2 separate regions of the Homo sapiens genome follow, and region 1 is linked to region 2. The links come from fine-mapping of genetic effects on gene expression. A gene starts in region 2. The other region holds a variant in brackets. All regions are shown on one strand. Distances are from middle to middle. Region 1 overlaps NRG1 (neuregulin 1). Region 2 holds the start of NRG1 (neuregulin 1).

Region 1 (9,045 bases), 26 kb before region 2:
ACTGAAATCTTGTCTCTACTAAAAATACAAAAAATTATCCGGGCGTGGTGGCAGGTGCCTGTAATCCCAGCTACTCAGGAGGCTGAGGCTAGAGAATCGCTTGAACCTGGGAGGGAGAGGTTGCCGTGAGCTCAGATGGAGCCACTGCACTCCAGACCAGGCGACTGTGTGAGACTCCATCTCAAAAACAAACAAACAAGCAAACAAAAACCTCCATGAGCTAATAGGCCCATAGACCTGCCTTCCTTACTGCAAGTGGTGGCTGGTTTTCTTGCTTCCAGAACCACTTCATCTTCCTTTTATGTTAAACTATCTGGAAAAGCTGATGGCACAGATGAAGTTACAAAGACAGCTCCTCATTTTTGTAAGAAGTGCTATAATGATGGTACATAACAGTTTAAAAAAAAGAGAGAGATGGATAAAGAAGTTAATACTGATTTCTGCTAGAAGAAAATGTCCTCAAGAACCAAGGTCTCGAAAAACAAAAAAAAAAAGTGTTAAGGTTTAAGGGTACAACGATTTAACTAAGTTGTTGAGAATAAATGTTGTTAGAGCCATAACTATGCTAGTTTTTTATTAGGTTCATTGTTATTCTTGTTGGTGTTCAGTTTATAGTTTCGTAAGTTTTGAATTCTCTTCACCTAGCCCTACTTTTTCCAGAAGCCTCTTTATTTTGTGTGTCATTTTGCAAAATGAGTTTTGTTTTGTCTTGCTTTGTTTTTCCCAAAAAATGCAAGCATGGAGTTACAGCAGAAATGTCTGTGGCAGGACAGGGACCTGTCAGTGGTGTTGCAGACAACTTCCCCAGGCCAGAGGTTCCCAAACCTATAACTGTATACATAAGTCACTTGAGCAAGTTTACTAAAATGAATATGAAATATTCATGGAACCCATTGAAAGACTCTGATTCAGTAATTCAGAGAAAAGCCTAACAATATGCTCTTTTACATGGAATCAACCTAGGTGCCCATCAGTGGTGGACTGCATTGAGGAAATGTAGTATATACACACTGTGGAATATCATGTAGCCATAAAAAGGAATGAAACTGCATCCTGTGTAGCAACAGGGATGCAGCTGGAGGCCATTATCCTAAGCGAATTAATGCAGGAACAGAAAACCAAATACTCCATGCTCTCACTTATAAGTAGGAGCTAAACATCAAATACTCATAGACATAAAGATGGCAAAAACAGACACTGGGGACTACTAGAGCAGGGAGGGAAGGAGGGAACAGGAGTTGAAAAACCAACTATTGGGTACTATGCTCAGTATCTGGGTGATGGGATCATTCGTACCCTAAACCTCAGCACCACGCAATATCACTCATATGACAAACTTGCATACGTAGGTTGAATATAAAATATAAGTTGAAATTATTTTTTAAAATAATATAAATATAAATATAAAATATAAGTCGAAATTATTTTTTTAAAAAGAGAAAAATATAGGGAAAAAAGAATCTGCCTTTTAAACAAAAGCATCGCAGGCGATTCTCATACAGGTGGTTAGTATGGGCACAACTTTCTCATAAATATTACACTGTGCCAGGGGCAGCCCTCTCCAAAAGTTATATGGCATTTACAGAGTTAATGTCCACCCCATAAAGTCTTTCCAGTAAAAATGTTTTGTTTTGTTTTTTTAAGAAAAAATGTTTAAGATTTATTGCCCTGGGTAAATTATAGGGAATTGAGACTTAATTTCACTTCTGAAAAAATTCAGAATCTTGTAGAAAGAGACAAATGAAAATTATGGTTCAATTGGCATTGGGATAGTTATCTACAAGGCTCAAATTGTTAGCACTCATATTCAAAATAATAGCCAGGAGTCAATACAGGGTTTAAAAATTATTTTTTAAAAAACAAAAAAAGAAGAGAAAATGAGGGAAAGAGAATCAAATATTCCAAAAAGTTTCTCCTGAGCTAGACACCTCCTTCCATTTTTATGTGTCATGTGAGATGGACTATTCTCTAAGGGCTGAAAGTAATTTCATAATATTTAAACAACTGATTTAAAATAATTACATTATTTGAAAATTGCTAAGAGAGTAGATTTTAAATGTCCTCACCACAAACAAATGGTATGTGAGATGATGACACGTATGCTAAATAGCTTGCTTTAGCCATTCCACAGTGTATGCATATTTCAAAACATCACGTTGTATACCATAAATACATACAATTTTGTCAATTTAAAAATTAATTAAAAATAAATTTTAAAAAATAAAACACATATTAATCAGGAACACATTTATTTTGGAGAATTCCTATGAAGGTTGCTTGAAGATACTTTTTTCCTAAACTTTAGAGCTATGTAAGACAAAGAACCCATTTTAAATTTGTGCTTTCTATAAGACTAGCATATCTGGGTCCTCAGATTTAAATGACCAGATCTAAAAAATAACAGTTAAGAATTATAAAAGGTGTAAGAACTGCCATTCCCAGACCAAGTTTCACCCTTATTAGAACATTCAAGCCTTACATTGGTGTCACCATTTAATCTTTACAAGAATACTCTCTCAAAATTTCCTACTTTATACTTATTTTCTAGGTAACCATGAGCATTAAATGCCCACAGGGATATTATTATCTCCAGTGTAGATCTCTACTTTAAGATCCAGACTTTGTTAATGTTGCTTGTCTTAAAAAGTATAAATATCCATGCAGTTGAGCAGTCCTAAAATACAACTTTTCCTTTACTCATGCCCTATCTCCAGCCCACTACAAAGTTTAGTTAATTTTACTACCACCCACCCCCACTTTCCCATCCCCAACCCTTCCAGGAAGGGAACTTTTATAGTATTAGGCAATAAGCAGAGCCGATGAACTAGTAATTAGTCAACTATAAAGCAACCACAAAAGTAGGAAAGAAGAGAAAGAAGAAGTAGGCCAACCACAAGGCAATTGAACATGAAGTGAGCTAAAACATGCATCCTAGAAAAAGAGGAAGTAGCCAAGAATGACATATCATGAAGAATGGCAATGCCTATCATGAATGTCTATGCCAGAGGGGTATGTCCAACCAGTATGGACACTAAGACAAAGGTCAATTGTGAAACCTGGGGAAAAATCTGAAGCTGGAGTTAGAAGAAGAGGTATTCCTAGGGAGCAAGGAATGGGATTTATGATCTGCTGTTCAGCTTTATTCTATGTTTGGCTTTAGATTTGTCTAGGGTTTACTTCTGTTCCTGAGTCATCTGGAGTTCCCTGAAAGCAGAGAACTCCATGCTTTCAAGGTTGAAGCATAACTGATTCTCTCACAATCTGGCATTCTGAACAGGATTGAAGGTTCAGAAATTCTATGTACTAACATAGGAGAGTTAGGTGGCAAAGCTGTAGTGTAAACTCTATGAAACAAAGATTACACATTGTGTTAGGCCATTCTTGCATTGCTGTAAAAAATAACTGAGACTGGGTAATTTATCAAGAAAAGAGGTTTAACTGGCCCACAGTTCTACAGGCTTTACAAGAAGCCTGATGCTGGCATCTGCCAGGCTTCTGGTGAAGCCTCAGGGAGCTTTCAATCATGACGGAAGGCAAAGGAGTAGTGGGGGACATCACATGGTGAAAGCAGGAGCGAGCAAGCAAGAGAAAGAGAGAGAGACCACACACTTTAAAATGACCAGATCTTAGTCATTATCATGAGGACAGCACCAAGGAATGGTGCTAAACCATTCATGAGAAATCCACCCCCATGATCCAGTCACCTCCTACCAGACCCCACCCCCAATATTGGAGATTACAATTCAACATGAGATTTGGGTGGGGAAAAATATACAAACTATACCACACAGTGATCTGATCAAGCACTGAATTTGAGATTTCTTAGAATTATATATTTGGGTAAGTTTATTAAAAGCCTTTTGAAGACCTGATGAAATGAGAGAGGGAAATGAGGCCTGGAGAATGTAAAATTAGAGACATAATTACGGAATGTCTCACCCACTTGGAATTTGAATAATTGCATCTACCCAACCAGATTAGTAATGTATAAAATCTTCTATCCTGTTTAAATTTGAGAGGTTACAGCATTATGCTCCTAAGATCTTTAAAAGGTCATGCTGCTATAAAGACACACGCACATGTATGTTTATTGCAGCACTATTCACAATAGCAAAGACTTGGCACCAACCCAAATGTCCAACAATGATAGACTGGATTAAGAAAATGTGGCACATACACACCATGGAATACTATGCAGCCATAAAAAATGATGAGTTCATGTCCTTTGTAGGGACATGGATGAAGCTGGAAATCATCATTCTC[A/C]GCAAACTATCGCAAGGACAAAAAACCAAACACTGCATGTTCTCACTCATAGGTGGGAATTGAACAATGAGAACACATGGGCACAGGAAGGGGAATTTCACATACCGGGGACTGTTGTGGGGTGGGAGGAGCGGGGAGGGATAGCATTAGGAGATATACCTAATGCTAAATGACGAGTTAATGGGTGCAGCACACCAACACGGCACATGTATACATATGTAACAAACCTGCACATTGTGCACATGTACCCTAAAACTTAAAGTATAATAATAATAAAATAAAAAATAAAAATAAAAAGGCCTTTGATAAACTTACCCAAATACATAGTTCTAAGAAATCCTAACTCAGATTCCTAATGAAAAGACAGAACTGGCTGGAGAACATAAGCAACGCCAGGTAAAGAAAAATTGAATATTGCTACAGCAAATGGTAAGGATATATATTTTATGTCAGGATATTGGGATAATAGTATCTCTTCAAGGAATATTATAGAGCAGAGGTCAGCAAAATACGGCTCATAAGCCAAATCCTGCCTACCATCTGTTTTTGTAAATAAAGTTTTATTGGAGCACACTTGCATTCATTTGCTCATAAATTGTCTGTGGCTACTTTTGTGCTACAACTGCAGAGTTGGGTCTCTACAGAAATGTTTGCAGATCCCTGTTATCGAGTCAATAAGTCATCATGGAACATCTGTAGAATTTCATCTAGCAATAAGTATTGGCAGGTTTCATAAAGACAGACAGCAGAATGGGAATAATCCATGCAGGGTCTGCATTTTGAGGTCTATGAACAAACTGGATATACAGAGTAGAATATTCAGAATGTTATCTGAGAATGCTAAGGGAACTAGAACCCCATTCAGATAAGGAGAAGAAGCTAAGATATACTTACGATAAATGTTGCCATTACTCGGTTCAGGCAAAACATTGTTTGCAAGTGGGGATAGGATATACAGATTAGGAAAAATGGTGGCGAAATTAACCTCAAAGTCAGAAAATAAATATGTCGCAAATTTGTAGATTAATATATTATTTGATATTTATTTATTTGGTGTGTATAATTTTATTTGATGATGATTTCCTTCTTTGAAAAAATGAGATGACAGATTCACCCAAACTGTGACTTTGTAGAAACCCTTGGGTGAGGACAGTTATCAGACAGAGGAAATGAGGCCTGTAGAATGTAAAATTAGAGACATAATTATGGAATGTCTCAACCACTTGGAATCTGAATAATTGCATCTACCCAACAGAGGAAAATGCCTCTGTTGCTGTATTAGTAACATAAAATATTCTATCCTGTTTAAATTTGAGAGGTTATGGCATTATGGTCTTTATAACTATCAATGATTTTTAGCTACTGTATAATAAAGAAAGCTGAAATAAGATGTAATTGAAAGTTAGGATAGTACATTGCAGTTAAGACGACACTATGCTAGGATTAGAACTGTGACGGGATTATTATTCTTAGAGGAATGAAGTTTTGGCTTAATAAATCAAATGTGTATAGTAACAATAGAAGAAATTTTAAATGATATCTTAGAAAATTAATCCTGTACCTCACTTATGATATATTGATAACATTCTGTGCAATTTATTCCTATGAGGGCTCTAAGATCATTCACATTGCTTATAAAATTGTGCTGAGTTTTTCTGTGGGAATTAGCAGAAAGAAGCTAAGTATATAAATTTCAAAAATTAAGACATGGAGGAAAATAGATTTTGGAAAGACTTCAGGAGTGTGCCACTTATGTCGTAAGCATTTCTAAAATGTGTTGCAATTGTTTCTTTGAAAACAGGAAATGAGAATAATAAAAGTGGATGAGAAAAAAACACTTGTGGTAAAAAGTCAGAAGACAGGCAGATTTTAAAATGTGGGCAACTTAGGAATATAGAGAAGATAGGACATAAAAGTGAACATAAAAGGACAAAAAGCTAGCAATAAACTGTGTATAAAAATTACATGGGGTTTGGAATCAGTTTACGGATTGAGTTCCAGCTCAGTCTCTGACTATTTTTATGGCCATGTGTGTATATTTGTAACTTAAAATGAGCATATATGGTCACTGCCTGTATGTAATTATTTACTGAGTTGTCTTACCATGGGAATTTTTCTACCTATTCCTTTTGAGTAACTTTGAAAATTCTGCTTCTGTTGTACCTTAATTGCAAGTCACTCAATTTACTCCTATTGGTAGTAACAAGAAAAAGATGAAACAGAGTTTTGAAATAGACATGAAGCAAAAGTAATGGCAAGAGGAATGGAGGTGTTTGCAAATAAAGCTTGAAGAAAGATGTGAGTAAAAGGAAACCTAGGCCTTGAAAAAAACAAAACAAAACAAAAAACTAGCTTCTGCTGGCTGATACGAAGGCAAAAGAATCTAAAATTCGTACATGAAGGCTGAGCTGGGGAGGTGGGAAGAGACAGGACCCAAGCAGGAAGAAGACACAAGTCAAAATCCTGAAGCTAAAACCTGAACGTCAACACCTCCTCATGGGTGCTGTAAAACCACGATGGCATTGACTATTTGACTATAGGCCCAGACCTTTGATAAGAAAATGCTGTTGAAAATCTCCTTGTATGCACATTATTTATAAAAGAACAAGTGAATTTACAAGCATCCCAAGCTGCAAAGGAACTAAGATCCTAAAACATTTCTGGTGAGTAAGGAATGCTAAGCAGAAATTAGTAATAGGGCCCGGCATCCATTATTACTAGTTTCAAATGTAGATGTCATGTCATTGCTGTATCTTTAATTTGGAGCACTGTCTTTATTGTTTTATGTTACTGGCTATAAAAATATTTATGAAGACTATAACAAGTTCACTCCTAACTTCAATCCTCTTAACCCACCTTTCCCACCATAGGCTTTTCTAGGACCTAACCAGGCGCAGTTCATGTGGACATCTATATACATGTTGCCCATATATTCACACATAAACTATGCTCTTCTTTCATACATAATATGGAATAAGGAAGGCACTTTTTAGAAATTTGGCTCAGATTAACTTTCTGGGCATGACAAACTCAGTGCAAATTCATATCATTCACCTACACTCCTGTCTGTTACCAATACCCTATAATCATAATTCATATTAACATAATTATCTTAGTATTGATTACCTAAAATATCCATAATCATCAATAATTTGTATCAATACAAAATAATGTATGTGACACTTTATCTTAAAGAAAGGGTCCTTTCAAAACAAGAGTTGATAACAAGGACTTTCAGAAATTAGGACTTTCTGAAGCTGGGAAATACACTGAATGTATGTATTTACATACATTTGAAAATATTCTGATTTTTATTCATCTTAACAAGCTTAATGATAGAGTGGAGCAAACCACTTATTTAGAAATACCATTTAAATTTTTTCTGATGAACTTGATGAAGTTCAAGTAGTGGACAACACCAAAAAAAATATTTAAAAGCAGGCCCTTTCTTTTCTGAAGTTTTTATATATAAGTCAGAGTTTTATTTAAAAGTACTTCCTAGCATCTTTAGAATATAAGCTCTCCATGGATAAGAATCATGTCTGTTCTATTCTCTGTTTATTTCCAGAACCTAGCACAATGTACAGAATGTATTAGGTACTTAATAATTATGTGTTGAATAAATGAATGCACAAGCTTCCTATAAGACCTAAAATAAAAGGTTTTTAAAAAAGAAACAGCAGAACATGCATGTTATATAGAAAATATAAAGATAAATATCAGAGGCCAGGAGCAGTGGCTCACGCCTGTAATCCCAGCACTTTGGGAGGCCAAGGTGGGCGGATCACCTGAGGTCAGGAGTCCGAGACCAGCCTGGCCAACATGGTAAAAATCCCGTCTCTACTAAAAATACAAAAATTAGCCAGGCGTGATGGTGTGTGCCTGTAATCCCAGCTACTCAGGAGGCTGAGGCAGGAGAACTGGTTGAACCCAGGAGGCAGAGGTTGCAGTGAGCCAAGATCGCGCCACTGCACTCCAGCCTGGGAGACAGAGCAAGACTCCATCTCAAAAAAAAAAAAAAAAAAAAGATAACTATCAGAAAAAGAATTAACTAGAATTGTTGAGAGGGCTTGTTTTTAGGAAAGAAAACTAGAGATGAAAACGGATGGGAAAAGGAACTGATGCCCACCCCCAAGGTAAATGTTTTACTTGTGTATGATTGTTTTAAAAAACAATGAGCTCACAATAATTTAATAAAAATAAAATTTTATTTAAAAAATGGTGATTTCTATACAAGCCTGTATTTCTGATAAATTATGAAAGAAAGCCAGAAGCAAATAAACTGTAATATTAAAGTGCAGAAAAGAATAAATGAGAAAAGAAAGTACAAGTGCTTCCCTGGCAATAAAGACAGTTTTCATATAATTTTTTTCAGACAGATACCAAGTATAAGTCTACTATATAATCTTTTCTTTTTTAAAGGAGAAAATAGACAGAAAGTTAAACAAGTAAGAGTATAGCTTTCTACTGAGGCAATCCCAGATAAACTGAACTACAGTATCACTAAAGTGAACCATCAGAAATGTACGTATACATGCACACACAGTACGCACAGCACACACACTTCAAGAATCATCTTGGCCTGGCCAGGCACGGTGGCTCATGCCTGTAATCCCAGCACTTTGGGAGGCCAAGGTGGGCGGATCAGTTGAAGTCAAGAGCTCAAGACCAGCCTGGCCAACATGGCAAAACCCCTCTCTGCAAAAAATTCAAAAATTAGCCAGGTGTGGTGGTGTGCGCCTGTAATCTTAGCTACTTGGGAGCCTGAGGCAGGAGAATTGC
Region 2 (9,045 bases):
CAAATGCCCCTCCTACCAGGAGTGAAGGGAGACAGGATAGTTCTAGAATCTGGCTAGGCATGATAGTGAATTTTTCCCAGGTTATTTAAGAGGAAAAAGAAAAAAGACAGAATTCCGTGCAGAGGTGCAGAGTAAGAACAACATATCGACAGAGAATCACAAAGGAAGCTTAGAGTCAAATACCAATTGGCCAAAAATTAAAAAAAAAAAAAAAAAAAGCGGCCAAGCGCCGTGGCTCATGCCCGTAATCCCAGCACTTTGGGAGGCCGAGGCATGTGGATTGCGAGGTCAAGAGATCGACACCATCCTGGCCAACATGGTGAAACCCTGTCTCTACTAAAAATACAAAAATTAGCTGGGCATGGTGGCGCACACCTGTAGTCCCAGCTACTCAAAAGTCTGAGGCAGGGGAATCACTTGAACCCAGGAGGCAGAGGTTGCAGTGAGCCGAGATTGCACCCACTGCACTCCAGCCTGGCGACAGAGCGAGACTCCGTCAAAAAAAAAAAAAAAAAAAAGCTCTGGTTTTGTAATTCAGGCTTCAAGAGAAAAAGTCTGTTGAGCTGAATCAGTATGAAGAGGCTGGATATGGGAGGTCCAGCACCAAGGAGACCCAGGCTGTTACAGGGCTCTTGGTACGTGGATCAGTGATACAGCACCCAAGACTATTCTTAGCTTGCTTATTTTGAGCAAAGAAAAGGAATCAATGACTCCAAGGGCTTGGGACCTATTAGAGCTATTATTATGGAATAGATAATTGTGTTGAACATCTGCAGCCCCAATAGTGTGCAATTCAACATTTAGTTAATTGTATAAAAGTGCAGATGCTCTGAAATAGCCATGTATGTATCGCATATCAGTCACTCATGCCATATGAAAGTTAAAGAAGCCTTTTCCCCCTGAAAATTTCCCTCCAACAGATGTGTTTATGCCTATGCGTACAATATAGCACACAGCGGGGCTGAGTGGCTGAGATCCCACCCCATTATCTCTCCCCTGACTGTCATGAGGCAATGTTAAAACAGCTGAAGAGAGGCTTGGCTATTGCATACATATCATCAAGGACAGACAGTTGCAGTGGCTGTTTTAAGAAAGGAGTGAAACTTGGAACTGACAGGCACTAAGATGGGAGCAATACAAGAGAAACTTGTCCTCCTAAGTCCTAATTTGGGCTGGCACGGCAAGTGTGAATACTAGAGTTATGGCATCTATAGGTCGTTCCTTTGGGAATGCCTGAAACCTAGAGTGTGGGTTTTTCTCACAAACCATTATAGTCATCAGGTATGAATTCTCCTAAGACAAGGAAAACTACACTGGCACTTACCATTATAAGGAAAATGACAAAGAAGGAAAGAAACACTGATTCTGAAGCATTGTATTTAATGCCATGTGCTTCTATATAAAGCTGGTTTCAAGTTGTTGACCATTCTTTCTGAATCAAATAAAGAATACATATTCTTATCTGGTTTAAAAAGCACAAGATGCTTCGAAGGGGGTAAAAAGTCCCTCCCCAAAAAAGATTATAATCTGGTGGAAAACAGAGACAAATATACTAAAAACTAACCTACAGCCAAATTCACCCCAATTTTTCAGGGAAGACAGTTAAGCAAATGTCACTTAAAGATACTGACTTAGCTGGTTTACAGGGAATCACTGCTGTACCACTGGAAAGCAGATGAGAGCCACCAAGGAAGCTCTGGTGCTCTGTGTCAAGAGAGCGTAGCTAATCACAAGACAGCTGCCTACCTAGTAGATGAGATCTGGAGGGCACAGAAATGCCTGCCCCTCCCCCACTGAACTTGTCAAGTTGCTGTGTTACGGTACTGCTGCTGGGAGCCCTTGACAAAATGCACACCTATTACCTGAACAGGATGCTACTTCAGACCGCTGGCCCCTTCTTAATTCATTAGACCATCTACAGAGGACCACAGAAACTTCTTCTGAAGCCAATGAGCAGGGAGACAGGAGAACACAACCACAAACAGTGATAAGAGCCCCCAAAATAACTCTTTACAACGATTTGAGCTAGGTCTGAAATCTCCGTAATGTACTATGATGACCTTAGAAAGGACAGTAGACAAAGTCACGCAGGGAGGTAACTAATCCAGCTCCCCAATTTCCTATCTTGTTGAATAAAGTGCTATGGTCTCTCCCCAAAATATAGGGTAAAAATAAGGGAAAATTCAATACACCCTCATGAGGGGCAATGATCAGTAATTGAAGTGAATATGATCAGCAGGATCTTATTAAAGAAGCAAGCACAAGAATGGCCAGTGGTGAAACAATTACTCTCTGTTCAATTTCTGTTTTGCTCAAAACTCTGCTGAAGGTCTCTGCCAATAACCCAGGTTCTGAAATGCTATCAGTGATACCAGTAAGAAGACCAAGCAAATGTGGTTTGTTTTCTTCCAGCAAGGGACAAATACTTCTACAGTATTACTGTAGCCACAGTATTATCAAGTACTAGTGAATTAATTCTGCAGAAGTGCTTCATGAAATGTGTGTTGGGGGTACGCTCGAAGCGACTTAAGGCATCTGGATCAATTAATAATTGGGAATTGCAGAGGCAAAAAATAAATTCTCCCCCATCTCCTTCCTCCCCTCTTTTATCAGCTACCTACCAATCACTCATAAACAAGTATTTATTCGACATGCCTCTTTTGTCCAAGGTAATGTCCAAAGCATCAGCGCTTCCTAGGGACATCTAAGGTAAAGCTTTTGTTCATGCTCGTGTTCTGATGATGAAATACAAGATTTGTTTCTAGAAAGCTTCAATTGCCATTTTATTATATAGATAACCAGCAAACAATTGGGTTCAAAAATTCAGATAAACGGTTGTTTTCTTACATCTCTTGGGAAAGTAAATTATCCATATTTATCACAGAGGTCTTGAAAAATAGAACTGTTAAGCCAAAAGTTTGTAGAACTTGTTTGGGGCAGAGCTGATTCCTGACACTGGACTAGATTTCATCTGCTTCGCTGACCTTTAGGAATCCCTGCCGCTGCTCTTGAGTCTCCGTAGCACAGGACTGAATCAAGATGAACCGGCGCGCACTCTACATCGCTTGCCCTGTGCCCCAAAACGCCGAAGCTAACTTCCCACGCGGCCTCTTGCTCGACCACCCACTTCTGCGCTGCCAGGCACACCGAGGGGACCGGCTCTCCCTCCAGGCGGCCCATTCCAGCGTTTCCCGCTAGAGGGCACACGGCCCCCGTGCAAAGCGCTTATGGCGCGGGGCACGCGCGCACGCAGCCTCGACTCCTATAGCCCAGGTCCCACTCCCGGGCTGGGCTCAGCCGCTAAGGCGCTGGGGAGGGGCCGTGCCAGGGAGCGAAGCGCTCCCGGGACTCTGGGAGGGTGCGGCCGGGACTGCTGTCCCTTGCCCTGAGCTCTGGGCGTAGGCGCCCGGTAGGACTCGGCGCCCAGGTGAGCGGCGGCCCCCAGGAGGGGAAGCACCGCGCGACTCAACGGGCGCTCAGAGCGCAGGGCGAAGAGGACGGGCGAGGGAGAGGGGGAGGGAGAGGCCACGGCATCCGAGGAGGAGGAGGAGTAGGAGGAGCAGGAGGAGGATCGTGGGGCCCGGGCCGCGCTGCGCACCCACCTGGGCTCTGGCTGCCCGCCGCGGACTCCGGCTTCTTGCCGGAGCCTCGCTCCTTCTTCTTGCCCTTCCCTTTGCCTCTGCCTTCTTTGCGCTCGGACATCTCGCCGGAGACGGAGCGCTCTACGCGGACGGCTCTCGGCGCAGGCGAGTTTGGTCCAAGGGCTCGGATCGGGTTTGGGAAAAGTTTGTCCCTCGAGGGGGAGAGCGAGCGGCCGCGCTGAGGCGCTCGCGCTGCGCGGGGGCGTCTCCCGTTGCCTGCAGGGAGCGCGGCGCGGACGCGGCGGGCGGTCCGGCCACCTGGAACGGGCGCTCGCCCTGGCTCTCGGGGCTGCTCCTGTCGCCCCGGGAAGTCGTCGATGGGTCCCACCGCTGGCGGCTCGCGTCCTGGCCTCTGCCCGGCGCCCTCGCAACCCGATCGGGGAGAGGTTATCACCGTCCTGCTCACGCTCCCATCGTCCGGCAGCCGCCGCCGCTCAGCTCCTGGCCTCCGCGCGAGCCCGGAGTTCCAACAAGTTTCGGGGAACTCCTCGCCGGCTCTTTTTCAATTGCCCCGCAGCCACCCACCTCCCGCCCGCAGGTTGGAGGCAGGCGCCTCCTTCGCACCCTCCCCTGGCCTCGCCCCCTCCCTCTTCCCCACCACACCCCCACCCCGAGGCGCGGACACGCCACCGGGAGGAGCCTGGGCTCGGCGCTCCCGGGCGCAGCCCCTTTTCCTCCCGCGCTGGCCGGGCGGGGGGTGGCGGCGCGGCTGCCGGGAACCCCCGACAGGGGTCGCTGGACGCTGCGCGGAGACCGAGGCCAGCGCCCCGGAGACCCGGGAACCCAGGCGGAGACCCGAGGCTCTCGCTGCCCGCTCCCCTCCGCAGCCAGGCAGCGCCTGGGAGGGCTGCTCCGTCCCATTCCACGCGGAAAAGGACGGCGCAGAGAAAAGTTTGCGACTCCCACACCTGTGCCCCAAGCAGAGTCTCCGTGGTCAGGAACCCTGGGAGGGGTGCGGGGGGAACGTTGGTGGCTTTCCCAGAAGAGTTCGGGGTTCATTCCTTAACTCACTTAAGTACAAAAGCCCTGTCGCACGCAGGCGAAAATAAACTCTAGGTGGAAGGGAGTTTAAGATAAGGCTTCCTTCCAGGTGCACAGGAAGGGCTAAGCGAACCTTAAAGATGCTAGGTTGCGCTCTCCTGCTGGGTCTGCGCCGTGTGCGTGTGTGTGTGTGTGTGTGTGTGTGTGTGTGTGTGTTTAGTAAGTGCCTGTTAGAAATCTTCAGCTTTTCCTTAAAAAATAACCTGGCCTCTTCTAAGGGGGTGCCCTTAAACTACGTCTCTTACTACAACTTAATTTTCAGAGGAACTGATAAAAAACATAGTTCGGAGCACGACTCAGAATAATTAAAATTACTGCAGCCGCTGAAAGTCACTCAGTTCTGCCGAGTGGAAAAGCAGGCAGGGAGGGGTAGAATAAAGACACAGAACTGGAGATCCTTAATTCGTGAATGTGGGGTTTCTCAGATTCAAACTTTACTCAGAACTGCGCGTGAAACCTACTCCTTCCCTTGTCCTCCCTCTGGTGGAGAATTCTAAAGAGCAAGGAAATAAGAAGGCATTGACCCCTCCCCTGCAAAGGACAAAAGTTAAAGACCAGGGTAACGGGCACCACGGAAGGATCCAGAATTGTCTACATGTAGAGAAAACATTCTCAGAGTTATACCACAGCTGTGGTTAACTTAGACTCTTAATTTACAGTGAAATACTCTTGTGTTGTGGTCGGGAAGTGGTGAGTTGGAACAATCCATATTCAAAATCTATTGCTTCACTTTAAAAGTGACTTGCTCTTGGTTTTCCATTTTCTGGGGTCAATGCTAACTGAACCATTACCTACACACTACCTTCTCACGGTATTTTCTGATGGCCGCAATTTAAATAAAAGTGCAGTCTGGAGTGTCTCCTTGATATGTAGATGGGAAGGGAGGGAGGGAAATATGTTCACTTTAAAACTGTCCTAAAATCACACTAATTTTATTCTAGTTTAATTTGCACTGTCATAAGAACGAAACTCTGTTGAATGGGTTTAACTGTGGAAAGATATCCTAGCAGTCTTGCCATCATTATTTATAGTTTAAAAGTTTGATGTCCAAGTAGCTTCTGATAGCCTTCCTACAAACACCAAATATAAATTTCACTGGGCTATAAAGACAGCAAAAGCAGAGAAAAGATGATGAATATATCTCAGTAGCACTATTAATATTCCACAGAGACGTATGCAAGATGGAGTCTGAACACTGGCTGAAATAACTCTGTTTTCCCAGGAGGGGGCCACTGCTCAGTAAGCAGGAAATAGCAAAATTCAGAGAAGTCCTTTCAAAACAGATATTTTGTCCCAAGGATGTGAGACAGCATAAGGGCTTAGTATACACTACCACATATTCTCTAACATGGCATTATGTTAGAATTGAAGGACTGAAAGCAAAGATGTATTCTGGGATTCTTTTTTAAAAAATAAGATTTTCCCCAATTAAAAAAAAGAAGCTCAAAATCCATTTCTATGGAAATGTTGTAATTCTGCTACTTTTGTTTAGGGTCTGGATGTTTTGCTTCAACAAAACAGCTTACTGGTCATTTTTAGAGTAATTTTTCAGTGAGATAGGGGAAGAGCCTACGATTTTGTGATACATTTTCATTTGAATGAACCTGAAGAGGTAGTTGACAGTCTTCCAAAATTAAGCATACATGACTACAAAAGAGATTACAGATACTATGGTGGCTTTAAGATAAAACGTAAAAGCAGGATTCCTACAGGAATTTTAGGGCTGAGGAATGAATGAATATGAAGGGAGGGAGGTGAGTATAAATGAGCATTTAATAATTGTTTTTCCTTGGTTTGATGTGATGGAGGGGAAAAGACAGGACAAAAATTGCAATGATAAATATTGAAGGGACTTTAAGGAAAGATGATGAAATGGCAATTGCATGACAACAATCCTTTCTGGAACCATATCCAGATTCTCGAGTTACATTTTAGTTATCACTTGTAGCTGAATTCTCAGGAAATTCAAGGCTCAGTCCAAAAAGGTTTTTTTCTAAAAATCGTTAGGTCTTTATGTTATTTAATGTTAATTTTAAGGGGTTTTATTACATTATTTATGGCCAGCTAAAAGATTAACCAAATAAATGTCCATTTCTTGGACAGTTAAAACATTTATGAGATTTATCAAGAATTTGATATTGTCCTTAAATTATTCATCTCTGTGGTCAGGAGTAGCAAATGAATTTCTTTTGCATTTGTAAAAAACCTTGGAACTGACCAGAACAAGGGATGGAGAAAAGAGGAAGAATATTTTTGCTTTAAAAAAAAAACCCAATTGTATAATTTAGAAATGATGACATATCTTAATGGTTTAATTTTATTAATTTGTGTATTGTTCAGGTCTTAGATCATGTATTATATAGGGTATATCAGCTCCCAGGTAAATTGTCAACATAACTCCTGATAAAAAGAGTACAGATTTTAAAAAATAAACACCTTGGGCATTAAAGAAATGCAAAATTTAGATCTCACATTAAATGACAGCGTAAGAGAAACGCAATCGTGTGCCACTACATTTTTCCTTGGCTAGACTTAACTTTTAGAAGGACTCTTAGAATCTACAAAGCTGGCTGAATATATCCTCTCAGTAAATCCCATTTGGGAAATACTCCAAGAAAAGTTTTAAAACATGGAAAAATTAAAGAAGACTAACAAGACAAATTGCATTTTTGGCAAAATATTATGCATGTTGACAGTAATGGGACTTTAGAATTCTGCAAATAGTCACTTTTAACTTTTTTAAATCAAGTAACTTAAGATAATGTAAACAAAGATTACTTTTTTAAAAACTGCAACAAAGTTGACATTAATGAAGATGCATGAATGCAAAGAAAATCTCACTCAGCAGAGTCAACTTCAAAACAACCACTAAATGTATATGATTCATTCATTCACCAAGCATTTACTGAACTAAGTGATAGACAGGCCGGGCATGGTGGCTCATGCCTGTAATTCTTACACTTTCAGAGGCTGAGATGAGTGGATTGCTTGAGCCCAGGAGTTCAAGACCAGCCTGGGCAACATGAGGAAATCCTGTCTCTACAAAAAAAAAAAAAAAAAAAAAAAAGATACAAAAATTAGCCAGGTGTAGTGGTGCTCCCCTGTAGTCCCAGCTACTGGGAGGTTGAGGTGGGAGGATCACCTGAGCCCTGGGAGGTTGAGGCTGCAGTAAGCCATAAATGTGCCACTGCACTCCAGCCTGGGTGACAGTGAGACCCTGTCTCATAACAATAAATAAATAAATAAATAAATAAATAAATAAATAAATAAATAATAAGCTAGGCAGTAGAGAAACAAATAAAATACTGTCTCTGATCTCATGAACCTAAAATATTGTGAGAAAGGCATAAAAACAAATTAAATATGACAATACAATATGAAAAACAAGGCCAGATGAGTTTTCTGGAAATGAAGCTCATAAAATTTGGGGGATCTTTTAAAAGAAAAATACTGCAAAATTAAACTTACAAATTTAGGTAATAAGAAATTAAATAGGCTCTTGCAAGTCAGAGTCCCTGAAGAGTAAGCTTCCTTAGCTTATGGTAAATTCACTTTTAGTGATTCCAAGCATATTCCAACATCTGCACCATAATTACAGCAATGGTACTTGACAATTGTATACTATTTTGGAGATTAAATAATACTGTTACATAATATCACTATAAATAGGAGACATTAACAAGCAATCAAAAGGAATACACACAAAACTGAGATAAGCAAAGACCATCCTATGAGGGAGGAAATTGAGGTGAAAGGAGGCTTAATAATTCACAGATTTGCGATTGTCCTGTGTGTTCAGTTAGACTCTTAGCATCAACATGCATGTTGAGTTTATTAGGCAAAGCACTTCTGACCAGCAAGACACTCTGGCAAAACTAGAAGTGGTACCCTCCATTTGGCAAATATTTAATAGAATTACTAATTAGTCATTGTCTGCTGTAAAGACAGTTTTATGATAAAATTATGAGCTTAGAATTCAAAGAAAAATGCTAAAAGGCAATGTTCAAACAACATTAAAATCAAATCTATGTTTATGTTTTTCTGCTTGTGTGACTTTTAAAAATTACTACATACTAATGATTACTATTATTTATCATTACTATTAATAAGATTACTGTCAGGATTGTAGTGTCATGACTGATATCATGGATTAAAATTGTTAATACTGCTAAATACTATTGCTGAATTTCTTCTTCTGGCCCTGATAAACAGGGCCAACGTCATACATTTCTTCTGTAATAAGGCAGATATATAAGACAATCATTTTTGAAAACATTTGAATTTCTTATAAGAAGAATACCATCCCACACAACTTTTCAGTTATTTTTTCTGACCTCTGCATTATTTATCCTCCTCAGTCCCC

Evidence for each region. PIP is the estimated chance that this variant, and not a neighbour inherited with it, causes the effect.
Region 1: its variant is fine-mapped to the expression of NRG1 in whole blood (TOPMed, PIP 0.96).

The regions. Positions count from the first base shown.
Region 1 is chr8:32,569,151-32,578,195 of GRCh38, reverse strand. All of the region lies in intron 1 of NRG1 (neuregulin 1), which reads right to left. Among named protein-coding and RNA genes, the nearest start is that of NRG1, 25 kb to the right of the region's middle. The variant A/C (reference allele first, on the strand shown) is at 4,264.
Region 2 is chr8:32,543,384-32,552,428 of GRCh38, reverse strand. It overlaps NRG1 (neuregulin 1), which reads right to left and starts at 4,118. Exons shown (of 12, transcript NM_013964.5): 1 at 3,603-4,118. The coding sequence starts at 3,702.